2 separate regions of the Homo sapiens genome follow, and region 2 is linked to region 1. The links come from fine-mapping of genetic effects on gene expression. A gene starts in region 1. The other region holds a variant in brackets. All regions are shown on one strand. Distances are between the middles of the regions. Region 1 holds the start of CIPC (CLOCK interacting pacemaker). Region 2 holds the start of LINC02289 (long intergenic non-protein coding RNA 2289).

The links. PIP is the estimated chance that this variant, and not a neighbour inherited with it, causes the effect.
Region 2: its variant is fine-mapped to the expression of CIPC in whole blood (TOPMed, PIP above 0.99).

The regions. Positions count from the first base shown.
Region 1 is chr14:77,094,454-77,102,785 of GRCh38, forward strand. CIPC (CLOCK interacting pacemaker) reads left to right here and starts at 3,805. Exons shown (of 4, transcript NM_033426.3): 1 at 3,805-3,908. It overlaps LOC124903350 (a long non-coding RNA gene), which reads right to left and starts at 3,565. Exons shown (of 2, transcript XR_007064275.1): 1 at 3,423-3,565; 2 at 2,012-2,447. RefSeq lists enhancers at 3,036-3,085, 3,447-4,276, 4,416-4,575, 6,690-6,739 and a silencer at 3,266-3,415.
Region 2 is chr14:77,071,965-77,080,296 of GRCh38, forward strand. LINC02289 (long intergenic non-protein coding RNA 2289) reads right to left here and starts at 4,227. Exons shown (of 3, transcript NR_110553.1): 1 at 4,141-4,227. RefSeq lists a silencer at 4,082-4,376. The variant G/A (reference allele first, on the strand shown) is at 4,440.

The sequences.
Region 1 (8,332 bases):
ATGCCCAGCTAATTTTTGTATTTTCAGTAGAGACGGGGTTTCACCACGTTGGCCAGGCTGGTCTTGAACTCCTGACCTAGTGATCTGCCCGCCTTGGCCTCCCAAAGTGCTGGGATTACAGGTGTGAGCCACTGCGCCTGGCCCACTTTTAAATATTTTTAAATGACTTTAATTTTAAATTCAACAATTATTAAACAATCGTTTATAAATATTTTAAATTGTATAACATAATACACTTAAAATATCTTCAAATAAAACTCGGCCCATGGCTGACTCTTCATGGTATCCTAGGCAGGGTTAAAAACTCAAATCCTCACACGGATAGGCAGGTTACAATTTCAAGAAGTAGATGGGAAAAAAAAAGAAACATTCGCAAGTCCCTAAATGTAGGATTTAAGGGCGCATGTCTCCCCCTGCTGGTTGTGGTGGTAGGAAACCGAACCTAGACCACAATGGTACTGGGGAGAACTTGAATTGGAAAGGACCCTACAGCAAGAAGAATAGGTGCTTCAGAACCCACTATCCATCACAGGGTCCTTACCCCATCCATCATAGGGTCCTTACTCCAACCAAGAGTAAAGAGAGTAAAGTGAGTGAAGGTTAAAGAATTCGTGGCACCAGTAAACTATCAATAGATGCTGATTTACAAATCTTGGTAAATTAATAGGAAAGGAAGAAAAACGTTTACGGTGGTTTAGCTACATAAAAATATTCACTATCAATCTTCATGAATTGCTTATTCTGTATATCTAATTATATAGAATCATAGCATAAAATAATCATAAAAATTATGCCTATCATTAGTCTTGATTCATTTGGTTCCATTACAATACTTGTCTGAAGCTTAAGTTATTGGTACAGCATGGCTGTCTGCTCAAGATGTAGGTAAAGTCAAGGAAGTTTGGTTTATTTGCCCCTTCGGAGGACTAAGAGGGCCTCATGCTTTCGCATATTTCACTGATTCTTTTTTGCTTGGTATGCATTATCCCCTCACCTGCTTCCATTATTGCAAACCCAACTTTCAAGCTGTCTTTAAAGCTTTACCTGCTGGTCTCTTTCTACTCCAACAACCGAAAAAGAAAGTTTTTTTTTTCTCCCTTAATGTTATTGTTTTGTTCAGAATCTTTTGGTAGTTATCCCATTCTCTTTCATATTGCTTATTACATCATGTCTTATTTCCCATATCAGATTGTAAGTTATTTGAAGGCAGACTTTTATTCTTTTTTTTTTTGAATTTTATTTTTGTTTTGTTTTTTATTTAAGTTCAGGGATACGTGTGCAGATTCGTTACATAGGTAAACTTGTGTCATGGCGGTTTGTTGTACAGATGATTTCGTTACCCAGGTATTAAGCCTAGTATCCATGCTGCTGTTTTTTAAATTTTTTATTTCCATAGGTTTTTGGGGAACAGGTGGCATTTTGGTTATATGAGTAAGTTCTTAAGCGGTGATTTGTGAGATTTTGGTGAACCCATCACCTGAGCAGTATACACTGCACCCAATTTGTAGTCTTTTATCCCTCACCCCCTTCCCACCCTTTCCCCTTGAGTCCCCAAAGTCCACTGTATCATCCTTATGCCTTTACATCCTCATAGCTTAACTCCCACTTATGAGTGAGAACATACGATGTTTGGGTTTCTATTCCTTAGTTACTTCACTTAGAATATAAGTCTCCAATCTCATCCAGGTTGCTGCAAATGCCATTAATTCATTCCTCTCATAGTTTATTTATTTGCCCCTTCGGAAAACTAAGATAGGACCACACCTCATGCTTTTGCTTATTTCATTGATTCTTTTTTTGCTTTGTGTGCGTCGTACTCTCACCCACTTCCATTACTGCAAATCCAACTTTTAGCTATCCTTAAAGATTTACCTACTGATCTCTTCCTACTCCAACAACCAAAAAAAAACAAAGTTTTTTTTTCTCCCTTTATTTTATTAATTAGGTTTTGTTCACAATCTTCTGGTACTTATCCCATTCTCTTTCATATTATTTATTACAGCGCGTCTTATTTCCCATATCAGATTTTAAGTTATCTGAAGGCAGATTGTTTTATTCCACTTCAAAAGAAGGCAATATATTAATAGCTTCATGGATAAAAGCCACGGTTTTCGTTTGTTTGTTTTGGTGAGACGGAGATTTGTTGCCCAGGCTGGAGTGCAATGGCACGATCTCGGCTCACCGCATCCTCCGCCTCCCAGGTTCAAGCGATTATCCTGCCTCAGCCTCCCGAGGATTACAGGCATGTGCCACCACGCCCAGCTAATTTTGTATTTTTAGTAGAGACGGGGTTTCACCGTGTTGCCCAGGCTGATCTTGAACTCCTGACCTCAGGTGATCCGCCCGCCTCGGCCTCCCAAAGTGCTGGGATTACAGGCGTCAGCCACTGTGCCTGGCCAAAGCCATGGGTTTTTAGTTGAGTCCTAATGGGCAAAAACGCCACACAACTGGAAAAAAATACCACCTGCGTCATAAACTTGTAAGGAATCATAAAAGGATGCATATAAAGCGGCCCGGCTCCTAATTACTTGGTAATTGTTAACTATTGCTTTCACTCTGTCCCCAAAACAAAAGCCTTACATGGTGTAGGCATATTACTTGTTGGTAAAGCTGACTACTAACAAGTACACCCATACCCAGTAATACATTAGAATTACCTGTGTCTAGAGGACTAACGTGATTAACCACGACCTAGCAGCACTTACAAAGGCCTGGATGACCAGTATAAAACAATTCCCCACTATCTAAATCAGCACTGTCCAATATAACTTTCTGCGATGCTGGGAATGGGCTATATATAATCTGCACTGTCCAATAAAGAGGTCACTGAGCTCCTGAAATGTGGCTAGTACAACTGAGAAACTTATCCAGTCGTTAGTGACCATCTTACTGGACAGCTCAGCTCTTGAATCTGCCTCGACCCGTCAACTCTTTAAACTCGCCCATGTCCTCTTTTTCACTAGCGAAATAATTCTTTTTCTAAGTAACCTTCACTGATTCAAGGCATCAGAACGTCAACTGATCCCAAGCCCTTTTTTTCTTTAGCTGTTACACACGTGTGTTCACCGTGAACCTTCACCAAGAAACAGCATCCATATAAAACCCATAGCACATGACAAAGTCAGTCAAACATCAAAGGTCATGAAATCATCTACTTAAAATAACTCATCGCGCCTCGACCTCGTGAAGCACGGTCTCGAGGGTGGACGGGAACAAAAAACAAACAGGGCGACAGGCGTAGAGAAAATGCGAGGAGCACGCGGGGAGGTCTGGCACCCCTGTCACGGCGACTCCAGGCTGAGGCCGCCCGCACGCCCGCTCTCCCACGCCGGGCACTGTCGCTCCCGGCACGCGCACAGGCCGGACACGACTCGCCCCGGCCCCCACCCCCAACGGCGGCACGGCGGCACGGCGGCACGCACCAAGACAGTGCGAGAGTCGCTCCTCTCTCTGTATCGACTCCAAGCCGGCCCCACCCCCGGCTCCTCTGAACCCCGCCTGGAAACCTTGCCCAAGCCGCTCATTGCTCAAGGCCCCCGTACAAAATGGCGGCGAGGCCTGAGGAACCAACCATAGAGACGCCCGCCGGCCGCGGACAGAGCGTAGGCCTCTGAGCGCTGGCCCCGCCCCGCGCCGGCCTGGTCTTCCGGCGGGGGCGGGGAAAGGGCGCATTTCCAAGGGCCCTTCTAGGAGAACAGCGTGCGGTCTCCATGGTGCCGGGTCATCCGAGTCGGGTCACGTGGCTGGCGAAAGCCGTCGCGGAGGCGTGGGGAGGAGAAATGGGCGGGAGGCTGTGGGGATAGCGAGACACCCAGCGACGACGAGGTTGTCATGGTGCCGCGGGGCCGTGCTCGCGCATGCGCCACCTGACCCACAGGCCGGTCGTGGAGCTGCGACCCCGGCCCTAGGTGAGAAAGGGAGGGCTCGGTCCGGGAGGAGGGGAGCAGGGATGACGGCGGGAGAGGGATTGGGCGAGGAGCGTGGGGAAAGGAGGTGGAAGTAGGGGAGAGAGGAAGAGGAGCGAGTAGGCAAGAGGGGCAAACCGGGACTTTCGGAGGACGGAGAGCCAAATGGTGGGAGCAGGGCTTTGGTTTGCTGTGAGGGGCGTGGGAGAGGGAATCGCGGGTGAGGAGGGGGCTGCGTGTGGGGAGGAGGCTTGTGTGAGGGGCAGGTGGGCCCTGGTCTAGCCCTGGGCGCAACCGCCAGCCGGCTGGGCGGGGAGAGAGCTTGGAGTCCAGCCCGGCTGGGAGCTGAGGGCCAAGCAATGGGCAGGTGAGTGGGCGCCAGAACTAGTAACTGGGCGAGGGTCCTGGGCTTCCGGTTTGAGGTCGGGGGTGGTACCCTGTTCTGGCTCCAGGGCACAGGTGTGCTGCCTTTTCCAGAGACCTGCCGTCACCCTCGTTGCTGGTTGTTTCCCCTGAGTGGCCAGCTTGCCAGGCTTGGTGTCGGGGGTAGTGTTTCTGGGGAGAAGGTGGGCAGTGCCAAGTAAGGAGTTAAGTGGTTAGTGGGTGGGTTCGGGGGAGCTCTGATCCCGGCCCAGGTCACAGGCTGGAGCTAGGCTCCCTGTTATTGCTCAAGTCCTGGCAGTATGCATTGCCTGGGCGTTTGCCCTGGAAGGCTGGTGGTATGCCAGTCACAGCACAGTACTAGGGTCTGCCCAGTTTTGCCCTGCTGAGCTGGCAGGCTGGTGGATGCCTGGAGGGTGCACATGCTGCCTGGCACAGATGCAACGTGGGCTGGTGCGAATGGGTAGGTGGGCACTGTTACTGTGAACTAATTGCAGCAGGGGATCGGAGAAAGTTCTCTAAGCTCATCTCCCCTTTGAAAGGTGAAAATAGAGCCAAACTGGTCTAAAACATAGGAAATTGTATGGAATTGGGGTTCAGGATCTTTGACACGAATTTTCAGCCAAGTTGGAGAAATGGAATGAATGTGGAAGGGAAGATGAATATTAGACATTTAGGTAGACAGGGTTTTTCCACTGTTAAGATACCCAGACATTCTCCCAGAATGGTATCCCTGAATATGCAGGCCAAAAGAAAATGACTTCGGAGAAAAGCTAGTAATGTATTTATAATTCTAACGGGGATTACTCAAGGTTTTCTTTCTGTGACCTTATCACTTTATTGTATTTAAGCCTCTGGTTGGGCTTTTACCTCACACTTCTGTCCAGGCACACATGTTATACACGTGACACATTTTAAAGGGAACTTGAGCTTCCAGGAATGTTGCCAAGTGTCTATAAAAGGAGAGATCTGAAAGCAGCATTTCAGATCCTTTTCTTGTAACCCTGGATCTCCTTTTTAATCATAAGGACAAATCTTCACAAAGATTGTTTGTGGATTAGATCAACCCTTAATTTGGATGGTGGATTTGTCCCTGACGTTTCAACTTAGAATAAGGGGTAGATCAAATATCTGTTTCCTGCAGGGGACCAGACGTGGAGGTTAGATCTTAAGGTGACCGTGGTGTTTGGAAATGCAGAATCTTGACCTTCAAGCTGTTCAGGTATTTCTGTGACTGCTAAGCTACTAGAGCTGTCAGAGACTCAGCAGGTCAGAGATTTGTTGGAATTTATTACTCTATTGAATGCCTCATGTTAATTGTTGGGGGCTGAGGTTGCAAAGATGAAAAAAACAACTCGAGGTTGAGGAGACAAATAATTAGACTAATGTCAGAAGTGCAAAAAGAGTAGTAAGAGCTAAATGCTTTGGAGCACTTGCTAGGATTTTGAATTTTGTCCCCTTATATAAACTTATATATTTATTGATTCACTTTCTTTCTTTCTTTTTTTTTTTTTTTTTTTGAGACGGAGTCTCACTCTGTCACCCAGGCTGGAGTGCAGAGGCACAATTTCGGCTTACTACAATCTCTGCCTCCCAGGTTCAAGCTATTCTCGTGCCTCAGCCTCTTGAGAAGCTGGGATTACAGGCACACATCCCCAAGCCCAGCTAATTTTTGTGTTTTTAGTAGAGACAGGGTTTCACCATATTGGCCAGGCTGGTCTCCAACTCCTGACCTCAGGTGATCTGCCCGCCTGTGCCTCAAAGTGCTGCTGGGATTATAGACGTGAGCCACCTTGCCTGGCTCTGATTCTCTCTTTTCTTTTCTTTTCTCTTCTTTTTTTTTTTTCTTTTGACGGAGTCTCACTCTTCACCCAGGCTGGAGGGCAGTGGCAACATCTCGGCTCACTGCAACTCCACATCCCAGGTTCAAGGGATTCTCCTGCCTCACCCTCCCAAGTAGCTAGGATTACAGATGTGTGCCACCACACCCAGCTAATTTTTGTATTTTTAGTAGAGACAGGGTTTCACCATGTTGGCCAGGCTGGTCTCGAACTCCTGACCTCAGGTGATCCATCCACCTCTGCCTCCCAAAGTGCTGGGATTATAGGTGTGAGCCACCACACCCGGCCTGATTCACTTTCCATTATGAGTTTTAGTGTGTACTATCCTCTCTGGGAAACTTTTGGACAATGTGTTACATATACATGCATAAGAGGCCCAATTAGGGTAAATTCTGACAGTTTTGGAGCCTAAATTAGCCCTTTTAATGCAGAATAAGGTACATGTGTTTGTAAAGCAGCGTGAGTGATTTCCAGTCTATGCCAGGAAGCAGGAAGCAGAAAGAACACAGTGGGTAAGAGCTTAGTAATCCATTTTCAACTCCTAGTCAGTGTGAGCATGTAACTTTATTGTAAACTAATATCTAAGAGGAAAAAAATCAAGCAACTTCCCGAGGTTTTCAGACTTTGCCTTGCAAATTTTGGGGTTGAGAGCACCAGTAGTAAGTGAGGCTTTATGTGGTGCTATGTGTGAGTGGGTCCCTCAGCCACTCCCAGGAGGGCAGTGCTGCTACTCCTCCGAAAGAGTAAAGTTTGGGGAGGGATGTAGCCCTTTGTTCTACATCCCATGTGAGCCTCCCTGGCTGCAATGCTAAGGCTTTTTGCTGCTTAAGAGAACTTTACTGAAGATAGAGGCTTTCATATTTTTAATCATTTTCATATGAAAAATAGTCAATTTGCCATCCTAAAGTCGATTTTACATTCTTTATTTCCAACTGCCACCAACTCCCCAGGATCTAAATTTAGCATCTGTTCTCTTTTTAACTTACCTCTGTGATACCTTTCCTCACCTACCATAAGGGTCATAGTTGACCCTCCCATAACAAAAGACAGGTTAACAAGAGAAAAACATAACAGTTTTATTTAATCAAAGTTTTTTTTATGACACAGGAGTCTTCAGAAGTGAAGCCTCCCAAACTCAGGGAAAACTGTCTATTTTTATGGTTAGGTTTGATGAAGAATGGACGGCTGTGTAGAAATATGATTGGACAAAAAGGGTATGATCTGGCTGGGCATGGTGGCTTATGCCTGTAATCCCAGCACTTTGGGAGGCTGAGGTGGGAGGATTGCTTGAGTCCAGGAGGTTGAGACCAGCTTGGGCAACATAGCAAGACCCAGTCTCTACAAAAAATTTAAAAATTAGCTGGGTGTGGTGGTATGCGCCTGGAGTCCCAGCTACTCAGGAGGCTAGGGCAGGAGGATCACTTTAGCCCAGGAGGTCGAGTCTGCAGTTAGCTGTGATCGTGCCACTGCGCTCTAGCCTGAGCAACAGCGTGTGATCCATCTATAAATAAAAAACAAAACAAAAACAAAAAGAGTATGATCTAATAGTAATGGACTGAGGTGGGAAACCCAGCAAGGTCTGTCTGTCCAGAATTATTCTTGACCTCTGTGTAGCATTCCTTCCTCTCTGTTATAGGGCAGGACCCATTCTGGAATGAGGGTTTTATGATCTGCTATCGGACAAGACAGGTCAGATAATTTCTTTATGGCCAGGAAGTCGAGGCTGCAGTGAGCTGTGTTTGTGGCCTTGCACTCCAGCCTGGGCGACAGAGCAAGACACAGTCTCAGAAAAAAACAAAAAGCAACAACAAAGTGCTCATTATGCTAAAGTGCCATACTTGGGAGTATTATTTTCTGAGCCTCAAAAACCGATTGTCAGTGTTTCAGTATTTTGACTCCATGATCAATTATCTCTTATCCTACAAATTCTCAATAAGCCAGAATAAATTCCTGTGTATTTTCTGTAGCTCTATTGACTACACTTTAATAATAATAGCAAGACCTTTTTCATTGTTTTGCCGCAAGGATTGTAGAAGACTAAATTGGGATGCATTATCTAAAGTACCTGTAAAATAATCCATGTTTAGTAAGATAATGTGAAACTTCAAGAACCTAAGAACCTAAGTAAGGTTCTTAATTAGTTGCAACTAACATGAGCTACCCTCCTAATCTAAATCAACAGCCTGGTCCGACATGAATTAGTTT
Region 2 (8,332 bases), 22 kb before region 1:
ATGACCCAGACACCTCCCACTAGGCCCCACCTCCCACCACCACCACACCGAGGGTCAAATTTCAACATGAGTTTAGGTTGACGCAACCATATCCAAACCACAGTAGACTCCATTCCCTTTAATCACCACTTTATGCACCTTCACTGCCTCTTGTGTCTACCTGGCCCACCCCATGCCATGGTAATCCCTCCTTCCTAGAACACTGGAGAAAATTCCACTTCCTGGGATACTGGCTTGAATTCTCCAGACTGAGTACCTCTGAGTCACCTTCTGTGGCAGCAAGGAGGAGGTGGATAGGAGGAGCTTTAGGGTTAGACAGGCCTGGGTTGGAATCCCAGCTCTGTGCCTCGCTGTCACTAGCTGTGTGTCCTGGGGCTTGTTCTTGAACTTCACTTTCCTAGATTGCCAAGTGTGGCCCATGATCCCTTGCCTTGAGAGGGTGTTGTGAAGATTAGAGAAATCACTTGCTGCTGAGTAGATGCTCAAGAAGTGAAGGCTGTTCTCGTTGGCAAGATGTGCAATTTGACCTTGGGAGGAGCCAGCCTGGAGATTTCAGCAGGTGTCAAATTCTTATCTAACCTGTTTAGAAAACACCACTACTAAGAAGGGCTAGAGGCGGGCGGATCACCTGAAGTCGAGAGTTCAAGACCAGCCTTTCCAACATGGAGAAACCCTGTCTCTACTTAAAATACAAAATTAGCAGGGCATGGTTTTGCATGCCTGTAATCCCAGCTACTCAGGAGGCTGAGGCAGGAGAATCGCTAGAACCCAGGAGGCAGAGGTTGTGGTGAGCCGAGATCGCGCCATTGCACTCCAGCCTGGGCAACAAGAGCAAAACTCCATCTCAAAAAAAGAAGGGCTGGGATTCAGATGGAGGAGAAGGCCAGCCTTCTTGCCCTGAGGCTTATGATGTTTCAGAGGGGGCTTGCTGATCTATCAGGGTTCAAAGGATCTCCAAAGGGAGTTATTTAGCTAAGATGGCAGAGCAGAAACAAGATTCCAAGACTTTGTACCCTGCCTTTCCATAGAGAAATTATTATTCAAAGAGTAGTATCCCAGCAGGATTCAAGTTCATGCCTCCAGGTATCTTTAGAGACCCTGGTACCATGAGCCAGCCTCTGTGTAGTTCAGGAAGCGCAAATTCAAGACTAGAAGTGGGGTGTCTGGATTCTAGTTCCAGCTCTACCTCCCACTGTTCTTGCAGACTCTTGAACTTGGTCCTCTTCTTGTCTCTTCAAGGTCATACCACTGAATGCTTCTCCTCTTCAGTGCCTCAGTGATGTCTCTCTTTTCCCTTCCCTGCAAAGCAGTGCTGTCCTTCTTGCCCATAGTGCTCTACTAGCAGAGACCATAATGACCACTGGTTAAGTGATTAAGAACAGGGCTGTTCATTTCTTTTTTTTCTTTTTTTGAGATGGAATTTCACTCTTGTTGCCCAGGCTGGAGTGCAATGGTGTAATCTTGGCTTACCACAACCTCCGCCTCTCAGGTTCAAGTGATTCTCCTGCCTCAGCCTCCCAAGTAGCTGGGATTACAGGCATGCACCACCACACCCAGCTAATTTTGTATTTTTTTTTTTTTTAGTAGAGACGGGGTTTCTCCATGTTGGTCAGACTGGTCTCAAATTCTTGACCTCAGGTGATCCACCTGCCTCGGCCTCCCAAAAGACTGTTCATTTCTATAGCCCCAGTCTCTAATATGGCATCTGACACATGGAAAGTGCTCACTGGTGAAAGAGTAAGTGGGACAACTCACTATAAATGGCTGTGGGGCCCATTGCTGGAAATATCCCCAGAGAGAATAGCACTGGGGCCCCTAACCATTCCAAGTAATGTTTAAGAATTATAATATGGAACTCTTTCTGTTCCAAGTTACACTGAGGCCCCAATATGACAGATATCAGTATTAGTTATCTATTGCTACATAACAGATTACCTCAAAATTTAGTAGCTTAAAACAATAATAAACATTTATTATCTCAGTTTCTCTTGATGAGGAATTGGGGAGTGGCTTAGCTGGTGTTCTGGCTTAGGGTTTGTCATGAGGTTACAGTCAAAATGTCAAGTAGGGATGCAGTCATTTGAAGGCTTGACTGGGGCCGTATGATCTGCATCTAAGATGGCACGCTCACATGGCCAGCAAGATGGTGCTGGCTACTGGCAGGAGGCCTCAGTTCCTTGCCATGTGGACCTCTCCATGGACCTCCCTGAGTAGCTTCATGACATGGCAGCTGACTTCTCCCAGAATGAGTGGTTCAAGAGAGCAGGGAGGAGGTCACAATGTCTCTTATGACTATATTAGATCCACAGGGCTGCTGTAACAAAGTACCACAAGCAAGATAACTTAACAGAAATTTACTCTTTCACAGTTCTGGGGGCCAGAAGTCTGAAACCACATTGTCAGCAGGGTCAGAACGGTGGCACATGGAAGGTGCTCATTGGTGAAACAATGAGTGGGAAAGAATAAATCATTCCTTGCCTCTTCCAACTTCTGACGGCCGCAGATGTTTCTTGGCTTGTGGCTGTATCATTCCAATCTCTGTCTCCATCTTCACACGGCCTTCTCCCTTGTGTCTGTCTACTCTTTGTCTCTCTCTCCTTATGAGAACACCAGTCATTGGATGTAGGGCCCACTCTAGTCAAGAACAACCCTTGATTACAACTGCGAAGACTATTTCCAGAAAAGGTCACATTTATAGGCCCTGGGGGTTAGGGCTGCAACATATCTTCTGGGGGACATCATTAAACACACAACAATGACCTAGCCTCAGAAGATGCATGCCATCAGCTCTGCAATAGCAAGTGGCTACAAGGGTCGGCCCTGTTCACGGAGGGAGGAGACACAATGATGTGAATACCAGGAGATGGGGACAATGAGGGGCCATTGTGGAAGCAGGCTACCACAATATCATCAGATAGCAAACTGAACATGAGACAGACTCCCATATGTAGTATTTACAAAGGAAATAATGGGGAACCAGTTGCATAGCACTCAGGGCCCTCAGCCTACCAACAATATAGAGTGTGGAGAATGGGGAGAGTTTGGAAATAGAAACTTCCAGAAAGGGCAAAGCCATGCTGTAAGCTACCCCACCAAGGAGTTAGGGGCCCTACTGCTTTCAACTCAAGCCTAGTGATGGGGGCTTCCATGCAGCCACTTGGAGCTGTGGGCCCCCATGGGACTGTGCCAGGAGGGACTGCATTAGGATGAGTGAAGGGGCTGTGTGAGTTCTTCCCATGGGCCACATGTGGATCAGATGGACCATGGCAGGAGAGAGGGCCAAGGTGGGGGTCATTTTAAGTCCTGTAGGGCCTCTGAGAAGGGCAAAGGGATGTCAGCAGAAAGAAGTTGGAAGAGGATGCTGGATTTCTAGGGGTTGAAGATGGAGTCATAGCTGTACCTGAAATGGAGGTGCAGAACAGGGAACTTCAGGAGAAAACCTTAGAGATGGGAACTTTTTTTTTTTTTTTTTTTAAGACAGGGTCTCACTCTGTTGCCCAAGCTGGAGTCCAGTGGCCCAAACTCGGCTCACAGCAACCTCTACCTCCTGGGTTCAAGCAATCCTCCTGCCTCAGCCTCCCAAGTAGCTGGGACTACAGGCGTGCAGCACCACCCCCAGATACTTTTTGTATTTTTGGTAGAGATGAGGTTTAGCCATGTTGCTCGGGCTGGTCTAGTACTCCTGGGCTCCAGTGATCTGCCCGCCTCCGCCTTCCAAAGTGCTGGGATTATAGGCGTGAGCCACCAAGCCTGGCTGAGATGGGAACTTCTGAAGAACACAGGGAACCCTCCAGAAAGAGCTTTCACCATCTGCCACACCCAGAGAGCTGGCAATCATACAGTCAAGTAAAAACTGCCCTATTCCCCTGCTCCCCATCCGCTTCCCTGCATCCTCACCCACCACCTCCACTTAGACTCTGAAAGCAACCAGCAAGTGGGGAGAGGGGTATTCGGGAGAGAATAGACAAAAGCCACCATGCCCAGTCCCTGGCAGCTGGCAGCCCCCAACTAAGGCCTTAACTAGGGCAGGAGGAAGAAGATTTCTCTTTGAAGAAAAATGCAAGAGTCATTTAATATCTTTGGGTGGCTGCTTTAAATCTCTAAGTCGATACTGGATTTCGTGACATAAAATGTACATACCTAAGCATGACCAGAAGAGCCTCGGGGTCAGCTGAGCTTTCAGCCAGGGGAAGGGGAAATGCTTCCCTTGCTTTAGCTCAAATGCACAGTGAGAGCCAAAGCAAATTGAGTTACATGTTGGTTCCACCCCACATTCAAGGGATTGGTTTCACCGAATCCCCGCCTCCACAGGGAATTGGGTCTTATATTTCTTACCCCCAACCCTCCCCGCCATGGCAGAGCCACAAGGAGGTTCCTGAAGAAAATCCCTTCTCGGCTTTTGTGCAGAATTGAAGAATGTTTACTATGTTTTCCTTCCT[G/A]TCTCTCTGGAAATGACGCAAAGAATAACAACAACAAAAAAGAACTCCTTGTCCCGTGCAAAACACCCGCCCCTCCCCCGCCCCTGACCTCCTAACTCTTCACCCTGTGTTGGCCTGACTTCACCCTGGGATGGGGAAACTTCCTGGGAGGATATAGCTGACCTGGGAACAAAACTTGTTTTTTTGAAAGCTTTGTGCAACGTCAACTAAGTTGGGGGAGGGGTCTGGGCAAGGAAAGAAGAAAGCAAAGGGGGGCAGGGTGGGAACAGTTCTGCTAAACCAAACAATTCCCCAGGGATGATGGAGCTGTGGTGACCTGATAAGTCCTTTAAATGTCTTATTAATTACTGGGGGAAAAATTGGCTACTTCTGAGTCTCCCCTCTCTCACTGTCCTTGCACAAGCTTGGGACTAGCTCTGTCCTTTTTTAAGAGTCAGTCTTGGGCCGGGCATAGTGGCTCACTCCTGTAATCCCAGCACTTTGGGAGGCTAAGGCAGGAGGATCCCTTGAGGCCAGGAGCTTGAGACCAGCCTGGGCAACATAGCGAGACCTCATCCCTACAAATAATTTTTAAAAATTAGCTTGGAGTGTTGGTGTGTGTCTGTGGTCCCTGCTACTCAGGAGACTGAGGCAGGAGGATTACTTAAGCCCAGGCAGTGGAGGCAGCAGTGAGCTGTGATTGCACTATTGCACTCCAGCCTGGGTGATAGAGCAAGAACCTATCTCAAAAAAAAAAAAAAAAAAAAAAGAGTCCAGCTTTTTAAAGAAGGGTGCCCCTTGGTGGAAGACAACAGGACAAGGCAGGAGCTGGGGCTGCGGAGAGTCCGGGGTCTGCAGAGCATGGGGCTGCCATCAGAGACCCACCAGGCAGGTTCCTGCTCCTAGCAAGGACCCGGCTGAGCAGAGATGAGGGTGTGGAGGTGAACCTGGAAAACATGCAGAGGATTCTAGACACATTCCACAGTCAGAGCCTCTGGAAAGCCCACCTTCTCCATCACAGAGGCTTTGGGGAATAGACATCCTGTTTCTCTGTATTATTACAGCACAAAGCATTTATCATGCTGACAATGACAGTGACATTTCAGGACCTAAACAAGCTTAGTTGTTCACAGCTTACAGGAGAGAAGGCTCCTAACACTCTTTATTTATTTATTTATTTGTTTGTTTATTTATTTTGTTTTTGTTTTTTTTTGTTTTGAGACAGAGTTTCGCTCTGTCGCCCAGGCAGACAGAGTGCAGTGGCAAGATCTCGGCTCACTGCAAGTTCCGCTTCCAGGGTTCACGCCATTCTCCTGCCCAGCCTCCCGAGTAGCTGGGACTACAGGTGCCTGCCACGGCGCCTGGCTAATTTTTTGTATTTTTAGTAGAGGCGGGGTTTCACCGTGTTAGCCAGGATAGTCTCCATCTCCTGACATCTTGATCCACCCACCTCGGCCTCCCAGAGTGCTGGGATTACAGGCGTGAGCCACCGCGCCCGGCCTATTTATTTGTTTTTTGAGACAGAGCCTTGCTCTGTCATCCAGGCTGGAGTGCAATGGTGTGATCTCGGCTTATTGCAACTTCCACCTCCCAGGTTCAAGCAATTCTCCTGCCTCAGCCTCCCGAGTAGTCGGGACTACAGGTGTGCACTACCACAGCAGGCTATTTTTTTTTTTTTTTTTTAGTAGAGACAGAGTTTCTCCACGTTGGCCAGGCTGGTCTCGAACTCCTGACCTCAGACAATCTGCCTGCCACATGATTAGGTCCTGAGGGCTCTCCCCTCATGAATGGGATTAAGACTTTTATAAAAGAGGCCTGAAGGAGCTTGTTGACCCCTTCTGCCATGCAAGGACACAGAGGAGGCACCATGTATGAGGAATGAGCCCTCACAAGACACTGAATCTGCTGGCGCCTTGACCTTGGACTTTCCAGTCTCCAGAACTGTGAATGATAAATTTCCATTGTTTATAAATTACCCAGTCTAAGGTATTTTGTTATAGCAGCCAAAACCATCTACAGAGCACTAATGACAGTTTGGGCTGGATTATTCTTCGTTGTCGGGGCTGCCCTGTACATTGTAGGATGTTTTGGAATATCCCTGGCCTCTATCCACAAGATGCCAGTAGCGCCTCCCCCAACTCCATGACAAAACTGTCCCTTGGGGGCAAAATTACCCCTGGTTGAGAATCACGGCCAAGTAGCAGTCCCCATTCAGTGACCAGACAGCTAAGGAGATCCAGAGTGTAGTGCTGGGCCACACAGATGCTAAGGGAATTTATACTTCAGGAAAAAAAAAAAAAAGGCCAAGTCTATGTGGCCTTCGCATCAGTTATTACTCTCTCGGTTGCACTAAGTGACAGAAAATTCACCTCTAAATGACTTTAAATTGGGATGCTGTTTCATATAACTAAGCAGACCAGGGATTAGGCATTGTGCTGGTTCAGGCCAAGCTTGATCCAGGGATTCAAACAATATCACCAAGATTTGGCTTTATCTTTATCCCCGATGCTGCTCTTCTCCATAGCGTTTTCTTGTTGGGATAAGATGGCTGCCAGCAATCCAGTCCCACCTCTTCCTATGCCTGAGACTTGTGAGGAAAAAACATGAAGTGCTTTTCTTTTTGCAGTCCCAGCAAAAGTCTCATTCCACTGAACTGGCTCTGACTTGAACATGAATCCATCATCAAGCAAGACACCATGGCTGGGGAATGTGATGGCCTAAGTGGCCAGGTTGTAGTCACATAACCACTTCTGGATCTGGGAGTGGAGTCAACTCTGTCTGTGGGACATCAAGAATGGGGAAGTGGGGTTCCCAAGAGGAAAGTAGCATACTACCACTGGGAGACAGGTGAAAGGATTCTTGATGACAAAAAGCAATACATAGCTACCACAGTCTTTTTTTTCTTTTCTTTTCTTTTCTTTTTTTTTTTTTTTTTTGAGGCAGGGTCTCACTCTGTCGCTCAGGCTGGAGTGTAGTGTGAGATCTCAGCTCACTGCAGCCTCAACCTCCTAGGCTCAAAGAATCCTCCCTCTTCAGCCTCCAGAGTAGCTAGAATTATAAGTGTGCACCACCACACCCAGCTACTATTTGTATTTTTAGTAGAGATGGAGTCTCACCATGTTGCCCAGGCTGATCGCGAACTCCTGAGTTCAAGTGATCTGCCCACCTCGGCCTCCTGAAGTGCTAGGATTATAGGTGTGAGCCACCACACCTGACCTACCAAAGTCTTTATACCAAAAAGAAGCTCACTCTTAAATTGATTAAGGTGAGAGCTAAAAGTTTAAAGAAGACTCTGCCGAGTGGTAGTATAATACCTGTGCCATGATTGTCCAAATCAACCTCCAGGTGACAAACAAGAACTCTTTCAGGTATCTCTAAGATAAACTAGCATCTGAGATGGTTCATTCAGATGGATCTCTAAAATGGAGACTGCCAGAGTTTTACCAAGATTTTTCCTCCCATTTTTTCATAGTAACATATATGTAGTTGGGTCCATAGTTGCTCAGCTGGAGATAGCATTTCCCAATTTTCCTTGCAGTTCAAATCGTAGTACATGTGAGTCCCAGCCCTGGAGTGAGTAGTCACTTGGGGGACACCTTGCAGTTAGGTGTGACCACATGACTAAGTTTGCACTATATGGGCAGAAGAGATGATTACACCTAGGCCTTAAGATAGTGGGAATGCGGCAGGCTGAGACATGAGAATTGCTTGAACCCAGGAGGCGGAGGTTGCAGTGAGCTGAGATCATGCCACTGCACTCCAGCCTGGGTGATAGAGTGAGACTCAAAAAAAAAAAAAAAGATAGTGGGCATGTCTCATCCTTACTCTTTCCCCTTCCCTTGAACCAGAACATGATCTTGCCTGAGACCTAGCTTTGCCATGCTAGTAAAAATGATGCCCTAAGAGATGACAGG